Linked DNA regions of Homo sapiens: region 2 is linked to region 1. Evidence: fine-mapped expression QTL. A gene starts in region 1. The other region holds a variant in brackets. All regions are shown on one strand. Distances are from middle to middle. Region 1 holds the start of TLE3 (TLE family member 3, transcriptional corepressor). Region 2 overlaps LOC107984788 (a long non-coding RNA gene).

Region 1 (2,500 bases):
GGGAGCAGGCTGAGCAAACCAGGTGGGAACTCGGAGTTCCCGGGCCTCGGCCGAGCAGGGTCCCGACCCCATCCCCAACCCCCTCAGCCTGGGGATGCAGTGAGGAGCCCGCGCGGCGAGGCTGCGTCGAGGGTGAAGTTGTGCCCACGGGGAAGGCGCCCCGAATGGGGCCAGCCGTGGCTGAGCCTGTTGTCCACGGGCAGCCGGGCCCTTCCATCTGCGCTGCCCGCCTAGCCAGAGTCCCTCAGACTTCTCCTCGCAGGCAGCCGCCGCACATCAAAGGAGCTGTTTATTTGGCTTTCTGAAAAGAAGGGCGAGTGAACAAAGGAGAGCTGGGGGCTAATGTGGGGGAGGCGGGCAGAAGAAGGGGTGAAGAAAAGGGGACATCCTGAGTTCCGAGCAAATTTTTAAAGGTCGGAGGCAACTTTAGGAGCCACCGTTTTATCAGTCCTAAATCTTTTGAAGTGAAAACATTAAAGTGACAAAGTGATTGTTTGTTTTATAGTATCTAATTGGGCTGCTTTGCAGACCTAATGAGATTAGAGGGAGGAATCGTTCGCCGCCGCTGCAGAATAAACTGATACATTACTACCAGCCACAGGTTTTGAAGATTGTACAGCTTGTCTTATTTTCTTTTGTTGTTATTCCTCTGTCTTCCCTCTTTCCTCCTCCCGCTAAATAATTATTTGCTAGTAGACCGTGGGAAAAAAAAGGAGGAAAAAAACTCGAGCAGCCCAGGACTATAATATATATCTATTTATTATATGTCTTTCGGTTAATTCCTGATCTGAGGAGCGCTGTTTTTCACTCCCATGCGAAAGTCACCAGCGGGTAGGGCCTGATTGCTACTTTTCATGCATAGTTTTAGACACAAGAGGGCATTGTGACGTCGCGCCCAGCGGCACCCAGTCGTAGGCCGAGTCCCGCAGCCCCACGTGGGGGCCCCGCGCTCCCATTGGCCAGCGCCGGACGAAGCTGCCACATTATTTTGTTACTTTTCAGTCCCTATTTGGAACTGCTCTCGCGGCAGTTCAGACCTCGTGCTCGTCCCCTTCGCCTGTCTGTGTGTGGTATCCGTAGGTCCGGGGCACTTTTTTTTTTGGTGTGTGTGTGTGTGCGTGCGCGCGTGTGTGTGTGTTGGGTGTGTGTGTTTTGGGGGTTTGCCGGGGCGCGGAGAGGAGAGCCGGGCCGAGGGGAAGGAAGGAAGCCGTAGAGCTCCCCGGTCTCGGGCTGCGTCTCCCCTCCAGCGCTCTCCTGCCTGTGCGCTCCGACGCGGCAGCGGCGGTGGCGCTGAGCGCTCCTCGGTGGGGACGCGGTGCTCAAGCTGGGAGCAGCGAGAACCCTTTGCGGAGGCTTCCCGTGCCCGCTGGACTTAGGATGCCAGGGCGTTTGATTTGCACCTACTGAGCCCGGAGTTCCTCCCCGGCCCTGGGAAGGGCTTGCAGCGGCGGCGGCGGCGGCGGCAGCGGCAGTAGCAGACGGAACAGCAGGCTCTCCTCTCCGAGGGGGGGCGTCGAAGCGCCCGCGCCGGGCTCCCGCCCTCACCCTCCGGCGCTCCTGCGGCCCCAAGCCACCACCTCGTAGCCCGCCTCCTTCCTCTTCTCGCCGCGAGCCCCAGGCCCGGACGCCTCTAGGATCGGACCCGCGCGCCCCGGATGCTTGGGGCTGCCCCGGCGCGCCCCCCTACAGGCGCGACCCGCTGAGTGACCCGGAGGGGGCCCGAGCTCGCCCCAGGAGGGGCCCCCGGCCTCGGGACCCCGCGCCGGACCTGCTGGGGAGCCGACGATGTCCGCGCAGTCCCAGGCATTGACGCGCTCGACGCAGCCCAGGGAAGGCGGCCGGCCGCTGCCCGCCGAGCCCTAGGCGCACAAAGCCCGCGCCCGCCGCCCGGCCCCGGCGCCCGCCGACGACTTTGCCGCCTGCTCCGCGGCTCTTTGTCTCCACTTGGGGCGGGCGCCCGACTCTGGGATTTCGCTGCGAGAACGAGCTGGGGGGGCCGGGGGCGAGCTCTCGGTTTCCCGGCCGCCCCCCGCTCGGGCTCGGCTCCCCCCTCCCCCGCACCTCCCCGGCCCGGGCTCTCGGCGCTTCCACGCTCTCGGAATCACGACCCCTCCCTGCCATGTATCCGCAGGGCAGACATCCGGTGAGTAATTGCAACTCGGTTTATTTAAGCATCTATCATGGCAGGGTAAACGAGGCAGTTTATCTGGCACCTCCATTTTGCTTGTTGCTACCTTTATGGTGTGTGTGTTTGTGTGTGTGCTCTCACACAAAGGGGGATGCGGCCGGGGGGCGCCGTTGAGAGAGGAGGTTAATTCCGCGCGAGTGGCGCGGGGGGCTGCTTGTGTTCCAGGGGGAGCTGTTCACGCGGTCCCCGGCCCCGCTCTGAAGTCTCCCAACTCACCCGGCTTGTCTCCCGCCCCCGCCTTACTGGGGAGAGGGAGGCCCTTGGTGAAAGGCATGGGAGCCCCGCTGCCGACGGGGAGAGATGGGGCGCCCC
Region 2 (3,023 bases), 340 kb after region 1:
CCAACTCTACCATTGGAGATACAGGGAAACTGAGGCTCAGAGGGGCAAAAGAGATTCCATGGCATCTTACTCCTGGCCTATGGTTTTGCTTTTTTTCATGAAGAATTTTTGGGATTCTAGAAGCTGGGATAGTAAGGAACTTTAGAGATCATCTAATTCAGACTCGCATTAAAGATGGCTATGTTCTAGAACTCAGCCGGCCACTTCAGACAATAGGCATGGTGCTCTGATCATCCCTGGAGAACAAACTCACATGAGATATGCATACAATTGCGTACCAGTGACAGCAGATTAAGAACCTGGCCACAGTTATTAAGGATCTACTATAGGCTAGGAAGTTGACAGAAATTATTTCAACCTATATTCTAAACTATCTTTTGAAGGCCATTATAATTATCCTCACTTTATGGTGGAAGACACTGAGAATCAGAAAGGTTAAGTAATTTATTCAAAGTCACAGCAGTAGTAAGTTCAGAATATGGGATTTGAACCCAGGTCTCTGAGACTCAAAAAAAGCATGATTGTGTCATTAACTCCTCATGGTGTTTGTATGAAGACAGAGAGATTGAAAAATGTTGAATTTTACCTCTTTATTATCCCTAATGGTGGAGGAGGTGGTGCTGAAAGGCTGATTGTAGAGTTATCAATCTTATCTATCTTTTAGCGTAAGTTCCTGCTTTCATTGACCATCTTCCCAGACTAGGTCACTTTCTCCTATTACACACCTCAGTATTTCCCTTCACAGCGCTTTTCACAGTAGTGATTTAATTGCCAATGTAATTATTTGGTCAATACTTCTCTCTGTCAATAGACTATAAGACCCATGAAGGTAGGGACTGAGTTCAGAGTCTATCTTGGTCACCACTACATCTTCTGTGCCTAGCACAGGGCCTATACCAAATATGTGCTCATAGTATCTGTGGAACAAATAGATGAATGGTTGGACGGATGGGTGGATAGATGCATGGATGAATGGAAAGATGCATACATAGATAGAAGGATGAATGGATGAATGGACGGACGGATGGATGGATGGATGGATGGATGGATGGATGGATGGATGGATGGATGCCTGCATGCATGCATGCCTGGATGGGTGGGTGGACGGACAGATGCATGGATGGATGGATGGATGGATGGATGGATGGATGGATGGATGCATAAATGGATGGTCAAATGTATGGATGGTTGGATGAATGAATAGATGAATCTCAGCTCACTGATGTCCTGAAATGTGCAGTGACCCAAAGCCCTGGGCTCTGAGAACCAAAGCAGACAGGACTTTGTTTTTGTTTCTGAACACTGCCTGTGTGGTGAGTCACCCAATTTTTGAAAACCAC[A/C]TGCTTCTTTCCACAATCAGGCTGCCCAGAGGGGCCCCCAAGCCTCAAAGAGCATCAGGAAAACACTGCTCACACGCACAATTACTGCCAGTTTCTTATCGTTGCTGCTTTGATGTGCTGTTTGTGAGTCAGAGCTGCTGTTGCCTCAATGCTGTTCCTGTTTCAGCAGCATTCTGACATTTTTTTTTTTTTTTAAAGAAAAAAGTCGGAAGTGGCAGACTCTGTCTTTGGGCTAGGACTACAGACTGTTATTTGATTTGATTACTGCTTCATTTGATTATGGATGGACTCGGGATTGAGGGGGATAAGGATATCAAAGAGAAAATGGTGGCCATATCCCACCTACGCTAAAGTAAAGAGTACCACTCCAGCCCTTTGGAAGAGAACATCCCCAACTCTTCCCCAGCAGATCCACTATATGGAACCCACTGTGGTCAGACTGGGGTCTGGCTATTTCCTGCCACACCCTGAACTTTCTCACTTCCTTTCTTACCTATACATTTCCAGTTGCCAAGAATGTCACCCCTCTCCCCATCTCCACCTCTCAAAAATACCATGCAGCCTTCCAAGGCTAAACTCAGTTACAGCTTTCTCCACTGAGCCTCTTCTGTTCACTGCAGTCAACAGTCTCCTGACCTGCCTGCTCTTTGAGATCTTGTAACATTCACTTCCCATGTGCTAATTTACTCATGTTACTATCTGACGATAATGTGCATTTTGCAATGTTCTGTTGCAATTTAAAGGAAGAAAGTTATGATGTCTTGAGGATAATGGCACTCTTGGGGCCAAAAGAAAGAAGCTGGAGTCCAACTAAGCTACTTTCTTCCTATCTGATCTCTGAGAAGTTATTACCCTCAGTTTGTTCATCAGTAAAATCAGGGTTTTTCTAGACTTGAATATCAGATAAGATAATCGTCCTAAACATGCTTTGTAAACTGTACAATTGTGGTGTATATGAAGAATAATTAACATCATCTTCATCCTTTCCATCATTACTGTCAGCATCATCAGCATCATCACTGCACTTCTATTTCACTTCCCATGTGTTAACATACCTGGATAACACATATTTGTTATCTCCTAAGCTGGACTGTGGGTCTCTCATGGTTAGGGACCTAGCGGCATACCTCTGAACCTCCTTATCTTACACATAGCACAGGGCTGGGTACACCGTTGATATCCAGTGACTGTTTCTCAATTGATTGATAAACTCAGATGAAAATAACTCAATAGGAGAAAGCTATATATGACAAGGAATCTTTCAGAGGTCCTGTTTTATTTCTTCCTTTGTTGTAAAAATAACAAATGGAAAGAAGTACATTATTAAAGTCAGCAACATCTCTCCCCGCACCTGACAAGAATGGTCTTGCACATTTTTTTTGCCATATCCCTTGACAGCACCAGGACACTTCTCATTCCATAGTCTCATCCAACCTTCAAGAGAATCCTTGAAAAGGAAACAGGGAACCGCAGGTGCATAACGTCCCATTCTACAGTCAAGTGAAGTGAGGCCCAGCAACATGATCTCACTTACTCCAAGATGGAGCATTGAGTCATTGGTAAAACCCCGCCCATGAAGGAGGTCTCCTAACTCTTGGCCCTTGGATGTTTTGAGGTGGACACTGATTCCACTGAAAGAGAATTTTCTACCACTAATCAAGGAGACAGAGGTTTTATAAATGA

What was found. PIP is the estimated chance that this variant, and not a neighbour inherited with it, causes the effect.
Region 2: its variant is fine-mapped to the expression of TLE3 in whole blood (TOPMed, PIP above 0.99).

Annotation. Positions count from the first base shown.
Region 1 is chr15:70,096,418-70,098,917 of GRCh38, reverse strand. TLE3 (TLE family member 3, transcriptional corepressor) reads left to right here and starts at 1,001. Exons shown (of 20, transcript NM_001105192.3): 1 at 1,001-2,143. The coding sequence starts at 2,120. RefSeq lists an enhancer at 1-743 and silencers at 1,563-1,732, 1,743-1,862.
Region 2 is chr15:69,759,452-69,762,474 of GRCh38, reverse strand. The region is part of intron 2 of LOC107984788 (a long non-coding RNA gene); the gene reads right to left. Among named protein-coding and RNA genes, the nearest start is that of LINC00593, 74 kb to the left of the region's middle. RefSeq lists an enhancer at 1,473-1,542. The variant A/C (reference allele first, on the strand shown) is at 1,341.